Homo sapiens: one gene and its partners. The protein of the gene in region 4 interacts with the protein of the main gene of each other region in a pairwise test. Each region holds a gene or a part of one and is shown on either strand. Other genes may lie near its edges. The genes, in order: YTHDF1, UPF2, EXOSC10, XRN2, EIF3L, DSCAM and USP16.

Region 1 (3,500 bases), about 42 Mb from region 4:
CTTCCTGCCTTATTTTTGATTTTTTGTAGAGATGGGGTCTCACTGTGTTGCCTGGGCTGTTCTCGAAATCCTGGGCTGAAGCAGTCCTCCTGCCTCGGCCTCCCAGAGGGCTGGGATTATAGGCATGAGCCACTGTGCCTGGCCGTGTCTTCATTTATAACAAAAAAGTTCAAAAAGTTAAAAAAAATTTAATAGAAAAAAGCTTATGGAATAAGGATATAACAAAAAAAATTTTTGTACAGCTATATGATATATTTGTGTTTACAAAAGAGTCAAAAACCTTAAAGCTTTTAAAAAAGTAGTTTGTAAAGTAAAAAAGCCATAGTAGGCTAGGGTTTATTATTGAAGAAAGGAAAATTTAAAAATTGAGTGTAGTGTTAAGTGGACGGTGTTTCTAAAGGTGACAGTGGTGTCCAGTGAGGGCCCAGGCCTTCACATTCTCTCCCTGACTCACCCAGTGCAACTCAGGCCTACCTGCTCCATTCACCGTAAGTGCTCTGTACAGGTGTCCCGTTCTTGATTTCTTATACCGTATTTTTACTGTACCTTTTCTGTGTTTAGATAATGTTTAGACACACAGATACTTATCATTGATGTACAGTTACTTCCATTATTCAGTACAGTTACACACTGTACAGGTTACGGCCTCAGTGTGTGGTAAGGATACTGCCTCCATGCTCACACGTCTCTGTTTGTGTGAGGACACTGATCACACAGTGACGAAATTGCTCATCAGGTTTTGGGTGGTTTTTTTTCACTGAACACAATGCCTCATCAGAGCATCTAGGACTTCTTTGAGAACAGCCTGGAGATGCTTGGCACAGGGCTTCCTGCTGTGCCTGGGCAGCTCTGGTGGGCCCGGGGTGACCTGAGGGCCAGCAGGGGAGTGTCAGTTTCTTGTGGCTGCATCTAAAAATATGGGCTTCCTTAAAATACCCAGTGGCAGCGCCTGCTAAGTAGGCATTTGCCATCACAACGGCTTCCCAGAAACGCAGCTGGAAGGACATAGTGGGATCTTAACGTGCTTCTTACTGGCAAGTTGCTGAAACAAATGCAGAAATTCTGTCAGAAACTGCTGTCTCTGCATATTGATGCCACCAGCTGAGGGGCTGAAATTGCAGCCTCAGAGGGACCAGTCCTGAAAACAGATCTGAAAAGTGAGCAGCCAAGTAAGTAAATTAGGGTTTTTCGGTTATTTTCCTCTAACATTTTCTCTGTGCTCCCTAAGGCTTCTCCTGAAGAACAGGTCATCCTGGTAGGCCTGTTCCCAGTCCTGGGTCAGAGCTGCTTCCCAGGAGCCATATCACTCCCTCACTTTTCAGCAGTACCCTTAATACTTTTCCATTTTACATAATTAATTATTTTGTTTTGTTTGTTTGTTTTTATTAAGCAAATGCTTCTCTCTGTTCCTCTTGGGCTTCTGAAGGGATCCTTTCTGCTTCTCCCTCTAGTCTCTCCTTTTGGTCATTCCAACTCCATCTCAGAAAAATGGATATAGGAAGTAAACTTAACCATTGAACTTCAACTTAAATGGTTCTGGTCATTCGGATGGAAGTTTCTTTTTTTTAATGTGGTTAAATTTGAGTAAATATGTAAAACTGCTCTTAGTTCTTTTTTGTTTGTTTTTGTTTTTTTTTTTTTGAGACGGAGTCTCACTCTGTCACCCAGGCTGGAGTGCAGTGGCGTGATCTTGGCTCATGGCAGCCTTCACCTCCCAGGTTCAAGCGATTCTCCTGCCTCAGGCTCCGGAGTAGCTGGGACTACAGGTGCCTGCCACCATACCCGGTTTAGTAGAGACGGGGTTTAACCATATTGATCAGACTAGTCTCGAACTCCTGACCTTGTGATTCACCTGCCTCGGCCTCCCAAAGTGCTGGGATTACAGGCCAGAGCCACTGTGCCCGGCTAAAAATGTGTTAGCCTTTCTTCGATGAGGTCGTCAGTTCTCCGCAGGGGCTGCAGTGAGGCGCCTAGCATGTGGAAGTGTTCAGCAGTCTTCTGTGGAGGCGGCTGCAGAGTAACAGGATCATGGTTTTGCTTGTATTGTCCTTAAAAGATCTGTTTATGCCACTCATTTACGAGGACCAAAATATGCTTGCTCAGAGGTAGTAATGTGTTAAGAACAAGCTTTGAATTTGTTCTTTTTTTTGGAGGGGGGTGGGGGGGACAGAGTCTTGCTCTGTCACCCAGGCTGGAGTGCAGTGGCTCGATCTCGGCTCACTGCAAGCTCCGCCTCCCGGGTTCACGCCATTCTCCTGCCTCAGCCTCCTGAGTAGCTGGGACTACAGGCACCCACCACCACGCCCGGCTAATTTTTTGTGTTTTTAGTAGAGAGGGGGGTTTTACAGTGTTAGCCAGGATGGTCTTGATCTCCTGACCTTGTGATCCGTCCACCTCAGCCTCCCAAAGTGCTGGGATTACAGGCATGAGTCACCGTGCCCGGGGTTAATGCAGCTGTATCCCTGAGAAGTAAACTTTCACACTCATAACTCAGTGCCCATGGAGCCGTGGCACTAAGGAATGTTGAGGGAGCAGCACAGCTCGCCTCCAGCACTTGGCAGCGAGTGAGCGCTGAACCTGTGCCTGGCTGTGCGGGAGACAAAGGGAGATCAAAGGCCCTGAAAGGAGGCTGCATGTGTTTTCCAGGCAGCCCGAACTGTGCGTTTCCAGTTGTCTCCCACGCACTGTGACCAGGACTGTGAATGGGACAGCTTCCCTCACCAGGGAAGGAGTGTGGGGCAGCAGCCTGACATGTGGCTCATAAAGAAGGCAGAGGACAGCATCTCCAGGTTTTCTTATGTACAGAATGACTGACTTCACATAGCTTTACAAATTAACCTGCTTCTTTACCTTCAGAGTTTTGGAGGAAAGATGGCAGATGTAATAGGAAATGGGCTGTCAGTGAGATTGAGGTAAAAATGGAAATCCGGCCCACAGAACCCCAGGTCACTGTATCCAGCCTGCCTGTGTGGCCGTGGAACCCGGTGAGCACAGAAAGTATCAGGAGGGTTTAGGGCTGCCAGCAGAGCTGATTAGCGTCACCGTCTTCTGTGGCTCAGGATGTGAATGGTGGTGATCTGGAGCTGAAGGATTTGCAGAGTACTGGCTAGAACTGCAGGCCCTGCACCTTGGGTAGAGGGAAGCTGGATGGGTCATTTATGGGCTCTCTGTCTGTGCAGCGTGTGTGCTAGGTGTGTCCATTTAATACTTAAAACGGATTTTCAGGAATGTTACATGCCTCATGTAATGTGGATTTTTTCATGTGGTAAGTGATGTCCTGTCTTAGTTAAGGCTTTAGGTGTAAGTCAGAAGTGTCCCTGGGCATCTGTTTCTGTGGCCTGACTCCTCTGGTTGGTGTTGGGGCCAAGTGGATTAGAATACCACACAGCCATCGAGGTCTTTTTTTCCCATCTGCTCTTTTTGCGTGGAAGGAAGATGTGTTGTGATTGCAGCGCTGCTGAGGAGCACGTGTCCAGCTAATGGGAGGAGGAGGGCTGGCT
Region 2 (3,500 bases), on a different chromosome or scaffold from region 4:
TTGCTCTATACTTTTCTACTGTAGTCCTGGAGCCCCCAAATGTATCTTCTTCCAACGTGGGATGTTCAATTCAGAGACACTGAAACTCAAATCAAGTTTAAAGCTCAAGTTCATTTCCCCCACACCATTACCATCACAACCCGTTTCTTCTCTGGCTCAATCATCTCCTTCACGCTCTCCTTGGTGTAACTGCTCAGTAGTCAAGTGAACCATCTCATTTCTTGACTGCCATTCTCAAGAGAAGATTAACCCTCGCGAGATTTCCATTACAAAAGGCCTTTTCCGCCTTGTCTGGAAGCGTCGGCTTGTTCCGGTGTTGGCAGAGGCTGGTGTTTCTGCCTCCTGGCCCCAGCCTGTCCCAGGTTTAGATTCGCAACTCTCTAGACCGACCTGCTGAGATGTGTCCACTGCTCTCATTCAATTGCTGGAGGACTCCACTAACCACAACATCAGATACAGGACCTAATGAAATGACACGTGCTGCTGGATCAACGTCTCCTAAAGGAACAAACAGGGTCACATCAGAGAGCTTACTGCCACAGGACAAAGTCCAGCAAGATGGCGTCTGCAACGCTACCCACCACCACCAAGTCACTCCCCCAAGTTACAGGTGGCCCTGGCATCTGCGGGTTCCACATCCATGGACCAAAAATATTCGGGGGAAAAAAACCCAAACAATAAAAAATAACATAAATATTAAAAACAATACAGTATATCAACTATCTCCATAGCATCTACACTTTATTAGGTATTACAAGTAATGTAGAGATGATGTAAAGTACACGGGAGGATGTGCATATGTTATACATAAATGCTACACCATTTTTTACCAGGGACTTGAATGTCTGTGCATTTTGGTGTCTGAGGGGATCCAGGAAGCAACCCCCTGTGGATACCGAGGACAACTGTAGTGCTTTTTTGAGAGCATTCATGCTCTCTACTGAGCTACAACTTAACCAGAGCCATTGGAGCAATGGCTGGAGGAGTGGCTCTGTTCTCTTCTACAACTTATTCTTAAGGTGCTAAGAATTCACAGTTTGTGTTATGGTTCAGTTGTGTATCCCCAAAATTCACATGTTAACACTGAACTGCAGGACCTCAGAATGTGACCGTATTTGGAAACAAGGTTGCTGTAGACGTAATTACTTCAGATAAGGCCATACTGGAGCAGGGTGGAGCCCTAATCCCATATGACTGCATCTCTATAAAAAGGGAAATTTGCACACAGACACACACAGGGGGAAAAGGCCACGTGAAGACAAAGGCGGAGACCAGGGTGAGGTATGACAAGGTATGGAAGCCAAAGACTGCCGGCACCCCCAGCAGTAGAAGGCAGGCCTGGAGCAGTCTTCCTCCAGGCCTCAGAAGGAACCAGCCCCGCTGACTCCCTGACCTCAGGTTTCCTGCCGGCGGCCTCCAGTGCTGCGAGACAACAGACATCTGTCGTTTAAGCTACTAGGGCTGTAATATTTTGTCATGGCAGCCCAAGCAGATGAACAGTTTGTTTCTTACAGAGCAAGCTACCTTAGCAAGAAACTTTCAAAGCGTTAAGATGCAAATATGGAAAAGTATATCCTCAGCTGGATAAGATCCGTAACTCTTCCAGAAATGAACTGATGGAAAGAACACAAGTATTCCCTGAGGGAATGAAAGAGAAGATTCAAGCATCTCTCCTGAAGTCAAGAAAAGGCAGCTATCTAACCTAGAATACTTTAAATAAATGCAGTAAATGACAGGAAAAAAATGTTCAAAATCTTTGCTAAGTAAGGTATAGTTATATCACTAGTTATAGTGTAAGGTGTCATTTGACTGGTTTATAAGCAAACAATCATTCTGAGTGACTCAAAAATCTATCAGCTCAAAAACTGTTTATTAATACAATATACACTTTGGATTAAATGCAATTCTACAATGGACTCTATTGTATAACAAAACTATCACTAATTTAACCTTACATAAAGATATATAAAAAAAAAATCTGATGAAAAAATGCAGACTCTACTTAAGATAGGTTTACAAGAGTTCAATATCAGCCTGGGCAACATAGTGAGACCTCGACTCCACTAAAAATAAAAAAAATTAGCCATTTGTAGTGGTGTGTGCCTATAGTCCCAGATACTGAGAGGCTGAGGCAGGACTGCTTGAGCCCAGGAGGTCGAGGCTGCGGTGACCTGTGATCACGCCACTGTACTCCAGCCTGGGTGACAGAGCAAGAACCTGTCTCAAAAACAAAATAAAACAACAACAAAATCATTTTTAAAAAGATGGGTTTAAAAGTCAGATAGTATACTCCTATGCCGCTAAGTGTAGGCCACACACCAGCAGTTTTGACATCACTGGAGATCTTGTTTAAAAGTAACCAGAGCTTGTTGTGCTCACTTCAGCAGCACATATACTAAAAATTGTAGTGATACAGAGAAGACTAGCATGGCCCTGTGCAAGGATGACATGCAGGTGGGGTGCAGTGGCTCACGCCTGTACCCTCAGCACTTTGGGAGGCTAACGCAGGCAGATCACTTGAGGTCAGGAGTTTTGGAGACCAGCCTGGCCAACATGGTGAGACCTCATCTCTACTAAAAATACAAAAATTTGGCTGGGCGCGGTGGCTCATGCCTGTAATCCCAGCACTTTGGGAGGCCGAGGAGGGTGGATCATGAGGTCAGGAGTTCAAGACCAGCCTGGCCAAGATGGTGAAACCCCGTCTCTACTAGAAATACAAAAATTAGCCAGGTGTGGTGGCAGGTGCCTGTAATCCCAGCTACTCGGGAGGCTGAGGCAGAGAATTGCTTGAACCCGGGAGGCGGAGGTTGCAGTGAGCAGAGATCACGCCACTGCACTCCGATATAGCGAGACCCCATCTCAAAAAAAAAAAAAAAAAAATTAGCTGGGCGTGGTGGCACATGCCTGTAATCACAGCTACTTGGGAGGCTGAGGCACAAGAATTGCTTGAACTCGGGAGGCAGAGGTTGCAGTGAGCCGAGATCCCGGCACTGCACTCCAGCCTGGGCAACAGAACAAGACTCCATCTCAAAAAACAACAAAAAAGAATGACACACAAATTCGTGAAGCTTTCCACAATAATTAAAAAATAATAATAAAAGAAACTAATCAGAACTTGCTTTTTAGTAAGAGTCTAGAGAGTTAATACGTATTTTAAAGTTTGAGAAGCATTGAAATAACCCATATGAATTAGTACCATCTAAGCCATGTAAGTATTAACACTTGCCAAAAATGTTAAGTTTCACAGATTTTCAATACTAGTGTATTAGAAAAACAACCTTGTTCTGCAATACAGAAAACCCTACATAATAGTTTTACTTACAGCACTGCTGCCGTTTCAACTCATTGTAAGCAAATGCCTCTTATTTGTTAAAGGGCTGAAATTTTAATTTATGTCCTTATTTCAAGGATCTCCTGGTTAGAAAATATACAAATACAAATTAAAATCTGGGAGTCCATCAAAAGCTACAGGAGAAAAATAGTTTATGCCGGGCGTGGTG
Region 3 (2,752 bases), on a different chromosome or scaffold from region 4:
TCTCAAAAAAAGGAAAAAAGCATCTTTGTGTGACAGGACTACAAATGATTAAAATTTTCTCTTTGCATTTGCCTTTTTTTTTGAGACAGAGTCTTGCTCTACTGCCCAGGCTCAAATGAGGTGGCGTGATCTCGGCTCACTGCAACCTCCGCCTCCTAGGTTCAAGCGATTCTCCTGCCTCAGCCTCCTGAGTAGCTGGGATTACAGGCGTCCACCACCATGCCCGGCTAATTTTTTGTATTTTTAGTAGAGAAAGGCTTTCACCGTGTTGGCCAGCATGGTCTCGATCTCCTGACCTCGTGATCCGCCTGCCTCAGCCTCCCAAAGTGCTGGGATTGCAGGCGTGAGCCACCGCACCCGGCCGGCTCTGGATTTTTCTAGAAGTCACCATAACCCCCGGAGCACACTCACCTGCCCACAGACAGCTGAAGATGGTTGCCTGAACAGGATGGCAACCTGCCAGAGCTGTGGCGGCAACAAAATAAAAGTCAGGAATCAGCTTTCTTCAGGAAGAATTTTAATGGTTTAAAAATATGTATGTACAAAAGCAGCACCAGCATTTGGTGCTTCCGGTCCACAGGCGCCACGTGTCTTCCAGGACTATCTCTGTGGCCAGTTGTACCTGAAGCCTCTGCAGAGAGTACAAAAACAACAGTTATTTCTTCCGGGCTGGTTGGATGTTCTCAGATGGTTTACAAAATGGTGCAAATCTTAATCATGCAGAACAGAGGAAGAATGGTTTGCTCAGGGGCCCCAGAGAACTCGGCGGCCCACCAGAGTTGGCTGAGCTGAGCAGCATCTTGAGAAGGCAGACCTGTTTTTCCTGCCCTCGGGCAAGTCCCCTGACCTCAGGGTCGGCTTAATTATTAGGATTTTATGTTTTTAACAAAAACATTTGGCTGGGTGCAGTGGCTCACACCTGTAATCCCAGTACTCTGGGAGGCCAAGGCGGGAGGATCAATTGAGGCCAGGAGTTTGAGACCAGCCTGGCCAACATGGCAAAACCCCATCTCTACTAAAAATACAAAAACAGGCCGGGCGCGGTGGCTCACGCCTGTAACCCCAGCACTGTGGGAGGCCGAGGCGGGCGGATCACAAGGTCAGGAGATCGAGACCATCCTGGCTAACATGGTGAAACCCCGTCTCTACTAAAAAATACAAAAAATTAGCCGGGCATCATGGCGGGCGCCTGTGGTCCCAGCTACTCGAGAGGCTGAGGCAGGAGAATGGCGTGAACCCGGGAGGCGCAGCTTGCAGTGAGCAGAGATCGTGCCACTGCACTCCAGCCTGGGCGACAGACCGAGACTCCATCTCAAAGAAGAAAAAAAAAAAAAACATTAGCCGGGCATGATGGCAGGCACCTGTAATCCCAGCTACTCGGGAGGCTGAGGTGAGAGACTTGCTTGAACCCAGGAGGTGGAGGTTGCAGTGAGCTGAGATTGTGCCACTGCACTCCAGCCTGGGTGACAGAATGAGACTCTCACAAAACAAAACCAAACCAAGCCAAACCACTCTTCAACAACAAGGATAACCCACATGTGCTTACTTTTTCCTCATTCCTAATAGGCTGGTCCAGGAAAATTTCACAACTATTTACACCTATTTTCCCTGAGGTGACCCCAGGACACACGGTAACTAGAGAGCCAGGAACAAGGGGAATCTGAGTCCTGGGGTGCAGTGCCTGGCTCTGTGATGTATGGCACAGAGCAAATCACCTCCCGCCCTTGTTTTCCGAGTGGCGTGAGGGACCTGGCTGTGGGAGGTTCTCTGAGTCATCCTGGTTGAAGACCCCTGGACACTCGCTCCCCAGCTACTCCCCACGGACCACACCACGCAGGGCAGGTGCTTTCTCACTGGGCTCCCTGGGCCACACCGCCGTCCACCACATACCTGTCTGACTTTCCAGTTGGAAAGGACATGCTTTTGTTTCCCACCGACTGTTTAATTTTTTTGGCTGCAATGCATTTCTGAAAAGAAAAGAAACCGTTTAAGCTGGGTGGGCACCTTGACCACAAGATACACAGAAAAACACACCTGAGCTCAGGTGGCCAAAGATTCTAGCAGCACAGGAGTGACTTTAGATCCCCTGAGAGAGGATGTTTCTGTGTCTCTGAAGGCAAGGCCGCCAGGATGCGCTGCAAGAGGAACAGGAGCACCCCAAAGCAGCCCTGCCCCCGCGCCTGTGGAAGCTACAGCCACGCTGTTTCCCTGGCACCAGCACCAACACCCACGAGGGGTGAATGCAGGCTTGTGCTGGCCCCAAAGGGGGTGCTTTTGGCCTGCAGCTATAGTTCCCATGGTAGCAAACACAGAATAATACCCTTTAAAGCCACATGCCAGCTTTTACAGCCTCGTTTTATGAGTTGCTGGGGTAGCTGATCAGTACTGTCTGCCCTTGGGAAGAAATGAGGTGAGGAAAAAGATATGCAAAGGAATGGACTCCTGGATGGGCCTGTCTTCTCAGCAGAGGAGGAGGTCAGAAACAGGCGCCACCAGCGTGCTAAAATCCTCCAGGAGCAGTTCTTACCTTGCCAGACGGGGTCTGTTTATTTGGATCAAACTGAGAAGAAACTTTGGATTTGCTGTTTCCTGAAAGGTAAGAGATGAGAGAGACCTGCGGTCAGGTCAATGAGTTACCACACATCACAGGCTCACAGCGAGGCCGGGACCATGACACTCAGGGAAGCCTTGGCTGTGAGAGCACCCCTGTCACGATGAGGGGCTAGGGCTCATGGCTCACATAAATGAATAC
Region 4 (3,500 bases):
ATGAAAGAGGTAACATCACTACAGATTCTAACAATATTAAAAGGATAATAACAAGTTAACAGGAAGAAAAAAGAAAACAAAAGAGAAGTAAAAACAGGAGTGAAAACATTTTAATAACAAAAAAAAAAGGATAGTAAGAAAATACTATGAACAACTTTATGTCAGCCAATTCAACTACTTAGATCAGGGGTGTCCAATCTTTTGGCTTCCCTGGGCCACTTTGGAAGAAGAATTGTCTTGGGCCACTAATACTAACGACAGCTGATGAGCTGAAAAAAAAAGAAAAGGTCTGTGCATAAATCTCATGATGTTTTAAGAAAGTTTACGAATTTGTGCTGGGCCGCATTCAAAGCATCCTGGGTTGCATGCAGCTTGCAGGCCACAGGTTGGACAAGCTTGACTTAGATGAAATGGGCAAAATCTGTGAAAGATACAAACTAAAAAAGCTCATCCAAAAAATAAATAAATAAATAAATAGGTAACCTCAATAGTTCTAGATCAACTAAAGAAACTTAATTTGCAGCTTAAAGCCTTCCCACAAAACTCCAAGTCCAGATGGCCTCACTGGTAAATTCTATCAAACATTTTAGGAAGAAACAATACTAACTCTACACAAACTCTTCCAAAAAACTGAAGGAACTCAATTTGAGGTCAACATTATTCTGACATCTCAACTACACATTACAAGAATGCTACAAATATCTTTTGTGAACAGAGACACAATTCTCAAGAATTCTCAAGAAAACTTTAGCAAACTTTAGCAAACTTGAATTCAACGTATATAAAAATAATACAACATGATCAAGTGAGGTTTATCCAAGGAATGCAAGGTGGCTTTAGCATTTAAAGACCGATAATTCACCATATGACTAGACCAAAAAATGGAAACCACAGAATGAAGTAAAACTATAAAACTTCTCTAAGAAAACACAGGAGACCTTGGCTTTGACAAAGGATTCCTTAAATACAAAAAGCAGAAATATAAAGGGAAAAAATTAATCAGACTTCATTAAAATTTTTAAATGTTTGCTCCCAAGACACTGTTAAGAAGTAAAAAGACAAGCCACAGATCAAGAGAAAATATTTGCAAAAGATATATCAAACTAAGGATTTCTATCTAGAATATGTAACAAACTCTACATTTAAGTAAGACAACCGAAGATAAAAATGAGCAAAAGATCTGAACAGATGCCTCACCCTGCCCGTGATGATATACAGAAAGCAAATAAGCATCTGAAGGAAATGCAAGTTAAAACCACAATAAGGTAACAGTACACTGGACTACCTAAAACTAAAAGGGCTAACTATATCAAGTGTTGGTGAGGAAGTTGAGCAACTGGAACCCTGATATGCTGCTGATGCCAATGTAAAATGGCACAACCAGTTTGAAAAAAAAAGTCTGGCAGGTTTTTCTTTTTAAGTAATCACACACCTAATATACAATCCAACCATTTCACTCCTAATGTTTTTCCCCCAAACAAATGCAAGCATACGTCCCTACAATGACTTGTACAGAGATGTTCATAGGTTTCTTTTTCAGAAAGCCAAAAACTGGAAACAATCCCAATGTTCATCAATCATCTGAATAAATAAATAAAATGTGGTGTATCTACACACAGAATACTATCCAAAAATTAAAAGACGAGGCAGGCAGATACTTGAGGTCAGGAGTTCAAGACCAGCCTGGCCAACATGGTGAAACTCCATCTCTACTAAAAATACAAAAATTAGCCGGGTGTGGTGGCATGTGCCTGTAATCCCAGCTGCTTGGGAGGCTGAGGCAGGAGAATTGCTTGAACCCAGAAGGTGGAGGTTGCAGTGAGCCGAGATCGCACCACTGCACTCCAGCCTGGGCGACAGAGCGAGACTCCATCTCAAAAAAAAATAAAAACAAAAAAGAAATAAACTACTGACACATACAACAACGGAAGAATTTCAAAATAAGTATACTGAATGAAAGTAACTGAGGCAAAAAATGAGTATATACTATATAATCTCATTTATAAAAAATTATAGAAAATGAAAACTTATCATACGGTCAGAAAGCAAACCAGTCAGTGGTTGGCAAAAGACAGGTGGCAGGGAGGGATAGTAGAAAGGAACTACAAAAGGGCAGAAGGAATGTTTTAGAGGTCACGTTCACTGTCTTGGTTGTGCTGGTTTCACAGATGTATGCACTGTATTAAATTATATACTTTAAGCCCAGGACTTTGAGGCTGCAGTGAGCCATGATTGCACACTACATTCCAGCCTGGTGACAGAGCAAGACCTCAACTCGAAAAAAGTTAAAAGAAAATTGTACACTTTAATTACCTGCAGTTTATTCTATGTCAAGTATACCTCAACAAAGCTGCAAAAACACCAAAGGTTGGGGGAGGTTTCAAGGAAAGCCAGAGAATGAGAGAGAAAATAAAAATAAAAATACATGAGTCTAAGAGGACCAGTATCCTGAGTCTGGAAAGGGAAGAAAAAAAGGTCAAGAAATCATCAAACAGCATTCCCTAAAACCGAAGAACGTAAGACTCCAGACTCAAAGAGTGAGCCACGTACTGATCAAAATGAATCTGAATTTAAAATAACATCTATACCTGGGTACCTAATAATGAAAGTTTACACTATCAAGAAAAAGATCTTTTTAAAATCTAGGAAGGAAAACTGATCACAAAAGAATGAAAGCATATGAGCATAAAAATTAAGTCCTTCTGGTTTCCACACTAGCTCTGACATTTATCAGCTGAGTGACCTTGGGTATGATACGCGACCCTGCTGTGTTTCCATTTTCTCATCTGAAATAATAATAAACATAACAATAATCATTATTTTTCTGAGATGGAGTCTCGCTCTGTCACCAGGCTGGAGTGCAGTGGCGGGATCTCGGCTCACTGCAATGTCTGTCTCCCGGGTGCAAGTGATTCTCCTGCCTCAGCCTCCCAAGTAGCTGGGACTACAGGCGCGCCACCATGCGCAGCTAATTTTTGTATTTTTAGTAGAGATGGGGTTTCACCATGTTAGCCAGGATGGTCTGGATCTCTTGACCTCGTGATCCACCCACCTCAGCCTCCCAAAGTGCTGGGATTACAGTCGTGAGCCACCGCACCCGGCCAATAAACATAGTAATTATTATAACATAATAACAATATTGGTTGTCTCCAAATAACGTGCTTCTATTATTTGTATGTAATAAAAATAATTACAACAGTAGAAGTCATGTGGTTGTGAGGATCAAACAAGTTATAATAAAGTTCTTAAAACAATGGTAAATGCTATATAACTGCTGGTTAAATAAATACATCACATTAACACCGAACTTGTCATCAACACTACTAGATGAGAGAGTACAAAAGAACAATTTCTTTCAAAGTTCTGAGGGAACCTAATATTAAAACTGGAATTCCTGGCCAGGTGCGGTGGCTCATGCCTGTAATCCCAGCACTTTGGGAGGCAGGGGCTGGTGGATCACCTGAGGTCAGGAGTTCAAGATCAGCTTGGCCAACATGGTG
Region 5 (3,500 bases), on a different chromosome or scaffold from region 4:
GCTCTCTAGCTTCCCACCTTTGACTTTCTTAGATGATGTCCTTTATATATGGGTGAGGTAGGCAAATCCAACTTCATTATTTTGCTTGTGGATATTCAGCTACCCTGGCACCAATTTATTTATTTATTTATTTTATTTTATTATTATTATTTTTTTTGAGATGGAGTCTCGTTCTGTCTCCCAGGCTGAAGTACAGTGGCACAATCTTGGCTCACTGCAACCTCCGCCTCCCAGGTTCAAGCGATTCTCCTAGGTTCAAGCAATTCTCCTACCTCAGCCTCCCGCGTAGCTGGGATTACAGGCGCCCGCCACCACGCCCAGCTAATTTTTGTATTTTTAGTAGAGACGGGGTTTCACCGTGTTGGCCAGGCTGGTCTCGAACTGCTGACGTCAGGTGATTCGCCCACCTCAGCCTCCCAAAGTGCTAGGATTATAGGCATGAGCCACCGCACCCAGCCTGCCCAGCTAATTTTTAAAAATTTTTTGTAGATACCGGGTCACACTTTGTTGACCTGGCTGATCTTGAACTCCTGACCTCAAGTGATCTTCCCAGAGTGCTGAGATTACAGGCATGCACCACTGTGCCCAGCCACATTGTCTTGATTACTATATTTTTGTAGTAAGTTTTGAAATGGGGAATTGTAGGCCGGGCGCAGTGGCTCACGCCTGTAATCCAAGCACTTTGGGAGGCCGAGGCGGGTGGATCACCTGAGGTCGGGAGTTCGAGACCAGCCTGATTAACGTGGAGAAACCCCATCTCTACTAAAAATACAAAATCAGCCGGGCATGGTGACACATGCCTGTAATCCCAGCTACTTGGGAGGTGGAGGCAGGAGAATCACTTGAACCCGGAAGGCAGAGGTTGCGGTGAGCCGAGATCGCGCCATTGCACTCCAGCCTGGGCAACAAGAGCGAAACTCCGCCTCAAAAAAAAAAAAAGAAAGAAAGAAATTGGGAATTGGTAAGTCCTCCAACTTTGTTCTTTTTTTTTTTTTCCCCAAGATTGTTTTGACTATTCTGGGTCTCTTGGATTTGCTTATTGATTTTAGGATGGACTTGTCAATTTCTGCAAAGTAGCCAGCTGGGATTTTGAGAGGAATTGCCTAGAATCTGAAGATCACTTTGGGGAGTATTGCCGTCTTAACAGTATTAAGTCCTCCAGGCCAGGCGCGGTGGCTCATGCCTGTAATCCCAGCACTTTGGGAGGTGAAGGTGGACGGATCACGAGGTCAGGAGATCGAGACCATCCTGGCTAACACGGTGAAACCCCGTCTCTACTAAAAATGCAAAAAAGTTATCTGGGCAGGCCGGCATGGTGGCGGGCACCTGTAGTCCCAGCTACTCGGGAGGCTGAGACAGGAGAATGGCGTGAACCCGGGAGGCAGAACTTGCAGTGAGCTGAGATTGCGCCACTGGACTCCAGCCTGGGCGACAGAGCAAGACTGCGTCCCAAAAAAAAAAAAAAAAAAAAAAACCAATATTAAGTCCTCCAATCTATGGACATGGGATGTCTTTGATTTATTTAGGTCTTTGGTTGCGTTCACCAGTGTTTTGTGTTTTCAGTGTACAAGTCTCTCATTTGTTTTGTTATAGCTAACGTTTTTTTGAACACTTAACTCCTTTTTTTTTTCCCCCTAAGATGGAGTCACGGAGTCTTGCTGTCTTGCCCAGGCTGGAGTGCAGTGGCGCGATCTCTGCTCGCTGCAACCTCTGCCTCCTGGGCTCAAGCAATTCTCCTGCCTCAGCCTCCCGAGTAGCTGGGATTACAGGCACCTGGCGGATTTTTTGTATTTTTAGTAGAGATGGTGTTTCACCATCTTGGCCAGGCTGATTTTGAACTCCTGACCTCAAATGATCCACCCGCCTCAGCCTCCCAAAGTGCTGGGATTACAGGCATGAGCCACTGCACCTGGCCTGAACATTTACTCTCAATTGACTAAACACAGAATGAGTTCAAAACTCATTCTGTGGCTGGGTGTCGTAGCTCACGGCTGTAATTCTGGTACTTTGGGAAGCTGAGGTGGGAGGATTTCTTGAGGCTGGGAGATTTAGACTAGCCTGAGCAACATAGGGAGACCCCCTTCTCTACAAAAAATTTTTTAAAAAAATTATCCAGGCATGGTGGCACATGCCTGTAGTCCCACCTACTCGGGAGGCTGAGGTGGAAGGATCACTTGAGCCCTGGAAGTCGAGGCTGCAGTGAGCCATGATCATATCACTGCACTCCAACCTTGGCAACAGAGCGAGACCCTGTCTTCAAACAAACAAACAACATTCTGAAATTAATATTTTCTTTCTTCCTTTTTTTTTTTTTTTTTTTTTTTTTGACATGGGGGTCTCACTGTGTTGCCCATGCTGGAGTGTAGTGTGATAATGGCTGACTGCAACCTGTGCCTGCTGGGCTCAAGCGATCCTCCCACCTTAGCCTGCCGAGTAGCTGGGACCATGGGTGCGCACCACCACGCTTGTCTAATTACTCTTGTGTGCTGGTTTTTTTATGCACTTGGATGGCAGAAGTCTCTAAATGGTGAAAGGAAATAGATCTGAATGAGATCTTAATCTCATCGACAGAGATTGAGGTTGATGGAGTCAAATGAGAAGTGGATTTTCTCATTGCATGTATTCTTGGGGCATATGCATAGCAATTTAGATGTTGTTTAGTCTTCAGAATTACCTTTATTCCTCCCCACCAAAGAGCTAAAGCTGCCAGGATACCCCAGTTTTATGGTTAGTGAAGCACCCTTCTGCCATCTCTTTCAGATGCTGTCTTCCTGATTTTATACAAAGAATTATACTACAGGCACATATATGCCAAAGTCAGTGTAAGTATTTAAGTGTCGCAGTTTTTTTTTTGTTTTTGTTTTTTTAACTCTGTGCTGTTTTTGTCCCTAGAACACAGTCATTTGTTTATATTGGTTCAGTGTCTGGGCATGATTGGCATGTTTTTGAGTTTTAAGAAGCGGTGGAAGGAACAGTTTAACCCAGAAAGCTGTTCAGACACACTAACGCTATATAACCTATGCATTCTTTTAAATTTCTCTGTCCCCACAATTCTCCTGGACTGGGCAATCACCCATGCACTGGTTATAGGCTGCCAGCCTCATAGGATATTTCCAGGTACCTGCTGCTGCTTCTGCTTGGGGTTCTTTTTCCCTTCAGAGCATTGAGCCTCTGTTTCTCTGAGATGTACATAACACTGTCACTGTATGCCAAGCACAATGCTAGGCACTTAGCACACATCTTCACATATCTAATTCTACTATCAATCGTGCAAAGTTGGTACCCGAGGTGCCAAGAGGTTACCTTTTCTCAAATTTATCCAGCTAGTAAGTGACAAAACTCCTTGAATCTAGACCAGCTTGTTATAACACCAGTATTCTACACATTATCCCAACTTTGAGCACTTGCTAGATTCTGTTCTTCCCGACTTCTAAATTATAGAGTACGTGAAGTTTCTTTTTTTTTTTTTTTTTTTTTGAGAGAGAGTGAGTCTCGCTCTG
Region 6 (3,500 bases), on a different chromosome or scaffold from region 4:
AGTCTCTTTCAATCCTAATCCACAGGGAAAGCCAAAATTCTAAGTCTTTTCCTAAAATTTAGCTAATTTCTTATCTCCCTCCCCTAATACTTGGTAACTGAAAATAGTAAAGGTTAATTTTTAAAAAGCCTTGATAAACTACAATCCTGACCATTGGAGTATAATTTACTTTATATATTAATATTTCATTTAAAAACATTTTACTGATCGATCGATTGATTGATTGAGACAGAGTCTTCCCTGTCACCCAGGATGGAGTGCAGTGGTGCTATCTTGGCTCACTGCAAACTCCGCCTCCTGGGTTCAAGCCATCCTCCCTCCTCAGCCACCTGAGTATCTAGGATTACAGGTGTGTGCCACCATGCCTGGCTAATTTTTGTATTTTTAGTAGAGACCAGGTTTTGCCACGTTGGCCAGGCTGATCTCAAACTCCTGGCCTCAAGTGATCCTCCTGCCTCGGTCTCCCAAAGTGCTGAGGTTAAAATATTTTAAAATGTAAACTTAAATGTTCAGAAGTCATTTTATTTAAGACCCTTCTAAGTTCTGAGTAAAGGCTAAGATTGCGAATGGTGTAAAACTGTTACTGTGTTTTGGAAGTAGTTCACCACAGTCTTGCACTCCTGGCCTCAAGCCATTCTTCTGCCTGAGTCTCCGGAGTAGCTGGAGCTACAGGTGCGTACCACATCACACCTAGGCCTCCCAAGTAGCTGGGATTACAGCAGTGAGCCTCTGCACCTGGCTGCTTAAGCAAAGGTAATTTGGGTTCTCGCACCTTGCAACCAATGGGGTCATAGTCAATACATGGATCTGTGCCAATCTGGGAAATCTAAAAATAGGTAAACTTACATTTCAAACAGTCCTTGTTTGAATTTTTGTCAGACTTTATTTTCAGATATTTGGTGAAGGGTTCTAATGTGAGCCTGACTGGGGGCTGGGGAAGCCTGTACATATGAAGTTAAAATCTGCGGTGTAGTGCACAAAGTCCCCTGAGGGTCCTGTTCAGGCCTTGGTGTTGAACATCATCTATTCACTGATGTCACCAGATCTGCAGCCTGGATTCCTGAACTCTACTCTCCCATATCTAATTTCCTACTGACAGCATCCACTTCTTTGTTTAGTGTGTATTTCAACCTCAACACATCGATAACTAGACTCCTAATCGCCTTCCTCAAACGGCTCCACTGCATCTTCTGCTGACTCAGTAGAAAGCAATGCCATTCTTCCTGATATTCAGGCCAGAAGCCTGACCTGATCCTTGATGTCTTTATTTTCCTCACACCTGTATCCAACCACTAGGAAAACCGACTGAATAGACCTTCGAAATAGATCCGGAGTCTGTCTTCTACCCCCAACCTCCTCTGCTCTCCCCCTGGTCCAAGCCACCATCATCTCTCACCTGGATTCACTTTCCAACAGGTCATTCTACTTGCCCCCTTTCCCCGAATAGACCATTCTCAGCACAGGAATCAGATGCGTCCTTCTTCTTTTTAGAGATGGGGTCTCACTATGTTGCCCAGGCTGGAGTGCAGTGTCTATTCACAGGTGCAAATATAGTGCACCACAACCACAACCTCAAACTACTAGACTGGAAGTATTCTCCTGTCTCAGCCTCTGGAGTATCTGGGACTACGGGCTCGTCCCACCTTGCCTGGCTAAAAGCATCCTTTTAAAACCTTAGTCTGGCCATGTGACTTTTCTGTTTAAAGTCATCCAATAAAGCCCCCATCTCACTCAGCAGAAAACCCCACGTCCTGAAAACCGAAGTCCTGATCTAGTAAGTCCCCCGTGAAAAGGTTCTGCTCCTTCTGACTCAGGGCCTTTTAGTGTTTTCTTGTTCACTTGGCTCCCACCACACCAGCCTCTCTGTTATTCCTCAAGCTTGCCAGGCAAACTCTAGACACCGTGGTTGTATCTCTTCCCTTTACCTAGGATGTCCCTTCCCCAGGTATCCATGAGCTGTCTTGAACCCCTTCACATCTTTGCTCAAAATCTCACTTTTTCCAGGCAGCTTTTCCCGACTATTCTGAAAAATTTGGCAAGCCCCAAATCCCAACAACTGCCATTTCTCTCCAGGCAATAAAATACCACATAAAATAATATTTTCCTTCTTTTGTTTGCAAGTACTTGCAAAGGAGCTGACAAGTTTTATACTATATGATAAGTATTCAGAAGAAAAGAAGCTCCTGAAGAAAAAATTATTCAATAGAATTATTTCCTAAAATCATAAATATATTGTTTATAAGAGACAATAAATTATTCTTTTGGCCATAAGCTAGTTTGAGTTGGTTTCTGTCACTTCAAAAGGATTAAGATGAATACATTCATTTATACTGATCTGGCAAATTTAAAGAATAAATGTTAATGATTCAAAGGGCTTTCGTTTAAATCTATGTCTCCTAAAAATTACATTAAAGTATTATACCTATTTATCCAATGGTCATACTTCTGGAAATTTTTCTCGAAAGAAATAATCTTAAAATCAGACAAAGGCCAATGCATAAAGAAGTTCATTTGATGCCTCATTTGTAATGGTCAAACATTAAAAATAAACTAAAATTTTAGCACTGTATTAGATGTTTTCAAAATGTAGCTCACAGACCTGTAGGGATCCCTGAGACAATTTTAGGTGATCTGTAAGAAGAAAATCGTTTTCATGACAATGCTGAGGTGCTGTTTGCCTTTCTCATGGTGTTGACATTTGCACTGTTGGAGCAAAAGCCATGGTGGGTGAGACTGCTGGGCGTTACCATGAATCCCAGCAGGGACACTAACAGGATGACTATTCATTGTACTGTTTACCGATGCATACTGTGAGTTGGTTTTTTAAAAATGCCAGATTCACTTACAGACACTTGACGAAGCAGGAAACATAACAGTTTTATTACATCTTTACCCTAAAGCTCACGTTATTTTTAATGTTCTATGTCCTGTGTAATAAAATGGGAAGAAGGCACAGTGTTTCCTCCACCTCCTGAGCAGCACGGCTATTTTCAAGCAGAGTATGTCTGTGCTTGCTTGAGTTGCAAATTCGACCAGCTGCTTTTCTTCATGGAATTCCATTTCTTTCTTAAAAGAATGGCTACCTAAAAACGATGGTTATGCGGTCTTTTCTATTTGTCAAACAATTTCTTACAGATAAATGAGCCCATCACTCCTACAATTACAATTGATGGTGTTTATTATAAATAATAAAATTGAATCTTTCAAGAAAGAATAGAATTTTAGAAAACTTGCATCCATCAGCATGAACTTGACAGTTTACTTGAAGACTTTCTGATGAGATCATGGTAATGTTAGTAGTTGTGATATTTTGATATTGTATAACAAATTGTATCAACATTTGGAAGATCTGTGTAACACAGTGAACCAATCATTTCCAAATGATCAACTTTTTATGTTACAAAATCATGTGTGGGTAAAACATTCCTTCCAAGGGTATGATAGACCAATGAATTTTAAGATGACAGAGTACAGAAAATGTGTTGATATGGCATCTGACT
Region 7 (3,161 bases), on a different chromosome or scaffold from region 4:
AAGGCTTATAAAGAAACATTGCTCCCATTTATATTCTGCTGTCAATATAGATGCTTATAAAATTAACACACTTGTATGGCCCAGCGCGGTGGCTCAAGCCTGTAATCCCAGCACTTTGGGAGGCCAAGGCAGGTGGATCACGAGGTCAGGAGATCGAGACCATCCTGGCTAACACGGTGAAACCCTGTCTCTACTAAAAATACAAATAATTAGCTGGGCGTGGTGGCGGGCGCCTGTAGTCCCAGCTGCTCGGGAGGCTGAGACAGGAGAATGGCGTGAACCTAGGAGGCAGAGCTTGCAGTAAGCTGAGATCGCACCACTGCACTCCAGCCTGGGCGACAGAGCAAGACTCCGTCTCAAAAAAAAAAAAAAAAAAAAAAAAAAAAAATTAACACACTTGTAATGAAGCTTCATTAGCCAGTCTGATGAAATATTTTTTAAAGTGTTACCTAGTAGGATAAGTCAATAGAAGTTAAAATCTTCCCAGTAATAAAACAAGATTTTAGGGTAAGTCAGTTTATTGATGTGTTGTGATCCATCACCCAGATATATTAAACACAAAGTACTTAAGTAATTCAGGATTTCCTTTCCAGAAACAAAGCAGGAATAAAAACCACTATGACAATATAAAACCTTTGTACATTTTTAGGTATTTTTCCCTTCAATATTTAAATAAACATGATTTCTTCTGGCATGTATTTAATGTTAAGTGAACATGATTTTAATTAGTCTTTTTTTATCGTTATTTCAGCCATTATAAAAGCCATAAATGTGTTTCCAGAAAAAGTGCTTTTGATATTATTACAGTATTCTCTCATAAAATAGGAGGTACGCTTGTGAGTTTAGTACTTTAGTTGTAGGCACAGCTTGCACATGTGTGTCGCTGATGTGAAACCACTGCCCTTTTGATTCCATTTCAAAATCTGTCATGAGAAAATGAAAAATCAAACATAAATGGAAAGATTCAAGTTGATTACTTTTTGGTTTTGCCGTAATCTGCTGAGTGCCTGAATTTTCCAAGACATCTTACCTTGTGGAATATCACCGTGAAGAACAAGATTAGAGAGATGACTATTTGCGGTTCTTGCCTTGGCATAGGCAGTGTAATGCCCCGACCTCATAGTACCACTGTGTTCAACAACTCCATATAAGGAATAGAGTACCCTTGTATTTTCTTCTGCAACATTCTTTAAAAATGAGTAGAATCCAAAAGTTAGTTCTAGTTCCATTTACACAGATGTCATGGGCAAGACAAGTTTACACTATGCAAAGGGTCTTTAACCATTACTTTGAGAGTGCAGAAATCATTCATGAGTCTACTCTTTTCTCCATACCTCTTCTCAGCCTGAGACACTTCTGTTTTTATTATAAATTCACCATTGTTCCCCTGGTAGAAAAGCTGTAAGCCACAGGCCACTTGATGCAGTTACCTGGCTCAGATACCAAATAACTGAATTCAACTTGCCAGTTTCTTTAGGAGCCTGAGGATAATTCTTAACAACCCTAGCTATTAACAACTCTGAATACCCTGTTTAAAAAAAGGTAAGCCCTGAACAGGAAGAGAACAGTATTTTAGGTTGTGCCAAAAATTACCCCTTACATCTTTAAATGTCCCCAAGGGAGTTGGTGAGAAGCACATTCAACCTCTCAAGTGTTCACTTTCCCCACGAGAGAGTGCACGCTGCTTATTCTTTCAGGACTCTATATGCCATAGGGCTGGCAACAGGAACAGGCATTCTCTGGGCCAGGAGCCACTTTTCAGACAACTATTTATGTTCTCATGTAAAAGTCCGTAACAGGCATCACGGCCCTTCAGTAGTACTGTCTCCTATACTCAGCTTCCCAATCTGTGCCTCCATATTCACTGAAGAACTTAGTACTTCTCCGTCCATCTATGATTCTCACAGGACTTTAAATGCCATTCCATTTTAGTCAACCACACCCAGGACTAGAGTCTGGGCTTGTCATCACTCAGAATTGTTCAACTTCATAAAATTTTTTTTGAGACAGGGTCTCACTCCGTCACCCAGGCTGGAGTGCAGTGGCATGATCTCAGCTCAATGCAACCTCTGCCTCCTGGGCTCAAGTGATCCTCCCGCCTCAGCCTCTGGAATAGCTGGGACTACAGGTGCACACCACCATGACCTGCTAAATTAATTTTTTGTAGAGATGGGGTTTCAGCATGTTGCCTGGGCTGGTCTCAAACTCCTGAGCTGAAGGGACATAAATCTTATTTTTAGTCTTAGTCCACAAGTCTTCTATTTATTCAACTCTCATCTCACCTATTCTGTACTCTTTAACCTAACAGGATCTCCAATGCTCATATTCTCCTCACCTATGAAGACTTTTGGCTTCATTCCTGATATGGTTTGGCTGTGTCCCTACCCAAATCTCATCTTGAGTTGTAGCTCCCACAATTCCCACATGTCATGGGAGGGTACCCGTTGGGACGCAACTGAATCATGGGAGCAGGTCTTTCCCATCCTTATTCTTGATAGTGAATAAGCCTCATGAGAGCTGATGGTTTCTTAAGGGGGAGTTTCCCTCCACAAGCTCTTGCTTTGCCCGCTGCCATCCATGTAAGATGTGACGTGCTCCTCCTTGCCTTCCGCCATGACTGTGAGGCCTCCCCAGCCATGTGGAACTGTAAACCTCTTTCTTTTGTAAATTGCCCAGTCTTGCCCAGTATATCTTGTCCAGTATATCTTTATCAGCAGCATGGAAACTGACATAATATAATTCCCATATGCAGTCTAGACCATTGCTATTCAAAATGTGGTCCATGAACAGCCAGCATCAGCATCACCTGAGAGTTTACATTAAACATGCAGAATTTTTGATCCCATACTAGACCTACAGAATCAAAATTTGTAGGTCTGATTCCCACATACACATTAAAGTTTGGGAACTTCAATCACATGTATCACTTACAAATAATCTCCTCCATATCCAATTCATCACAAAACCTCACCCTGAATCCTATAATGTACCTGCCATGCCCCAAACCCAGATGGCCACTACTGCCAAGAAACAAAAGTATAATAAATGATCATGTACCTTGTCATAGTCCTCAATGTGACCATAATCTTATAAATTGTCCTTAGCGGCCTCTTCCATTATGCCCATCACAGCAACTGGCCCAGACTTTTTTTTTTTTTTGA

What was found.
Region 1: the proteins of XRN2 (region 4) and YTHDF1 interact in a two-hybrid assay, tested with the Homo sapiens proteins (one large-scale study listed by BioGRID).
Region 2: the proteins of XRN2 (region 4) and UPF2 interact in a two-hybrid assay, tested with the Homo sapiens proteins (one large-scale study listed by BioGRID and IntAct).
Region 3: the proteins of XRN2 (region 4) and EXOSC10 interact in a two-hybrid assay, tested with the Homo sapiens proteins (one large-scale study listed by BioGRID and IntAct).
Region 5: the proteins of XRN2 (region 4) and EIF3L interact in a two-hybrid assay, tested with the Homo sapiens proteins (one large-scale study listed by BioGRID and IntAct).
Region 6: the proteins of XRN2 (region 4) and DSCAM interact in a two-hybrid assay, tested with the Homo sapiens proteins (one large-scale study listed by BioGRID and IntAct).
Region 7: the proteins of XRN2 (region 4) and USP16 interact in a two-hybrid assay, tested with the Homo sapiens proteins (one large-scale study listed by BioGRID and IntAct).

The regions. Positions count from the first base shown.
Region 1 is NC_000020.11:63,206,132-63,209,631, reverse strand, and holds part of YTHDF1 (YTH domain-containing family protein 1), read left to right. Parts: intron 1-3,500.
Region 2 is NC_000010.11:11,920,810-11,924,309, forward strand, and holds part of UPF2 (regulator of nonsense transcripts 2), read right to left. Parts: intron 499-3,500; coding exon 489-498; 3' UTR 1-488. UniProt on the Homo sapiens protein: Involved in nonsense-mediated decay (NMD) of mRNAs containing premature stop codons by associating with the nuclear exon junction complex (EJC).
Region 3 is NC_000001.11:11,066,118-11,068,869, forward strand, and holds the end of EXOSC10 (exosome complex component 10), read right to left. Parts: intron 2,590-2,752; coding exon 2,528-2,589; intron 1,968-2,527; coding exon 1,891-1,967; intron 632-1,890; coding exon 601-631; 3' UTR 501-600; downstream 1-500. UniProt on the Homo sapiens protein: Catalytic component of the RNA exosome complex which has 3'->5' exoribonuclease activity and participates in a multitude of cellular RNA processing and degradation events.
Region 4 is NC_000020.11:21,306,331-21,309,830, reverse strand, and holds part of XRN2 (5'-3' exoribonuclease 2), read right to left. Parts: intron 1-3,500. UniProt on the Homo sapiens protein: Possesses 5'->3' exoribonuclease activity. May promote the termination of transcription by RNA polymerase II.
Region 5 is NC_000022.11:37,855,919-37,859,418, forward strand, and holds part of EIF3L (eukaryotic translation initiation factor 3 subunit L), read left to right. Parts: intron 1-2,760; coding exon 2,761-2,822; intron 2,823-3,500. UniProt on the Homo sapiens protein: Component of the eukaryotic translation initiation factor 3 (eIF-3) complex, which is required for several steps in the initiation of protein synthesis.
Region 6 is NC_000021.9:40,333,159-40,336,658, forward strand, and holds part of DSCAM (cell adhesion molecule DSCAM isoform CHD2-42 precursor), read right to left. Parts: intron 1-3,500. UniProt on the Homo sapiens protein: Cell adhesion molecule that plays a role in neuronal self-avoidance. Promotes repulsion between specific neuronal processes of either the same cell or the same subtype of cells.
Region 7 is NC_000021.9:29,051,828-29,054,988, reverse strand, and holds the end of USP16 (ubiquitin carboxyl-terminal hydrolase 16), read right to left. Parts: intron 1,188-3,161; coding exon 1,031-1,187; intron 924-1,030; coding exon 802-923; 3' UTR 501-801; downstream 1-500. UniProt on the Homo sapiens protein: Specifically deubiquitinates 'Lys-120' of histone H2A (H2AK119Ub), a specific tag for epigenetic transcriptional repression, thereby acting as a coactivator.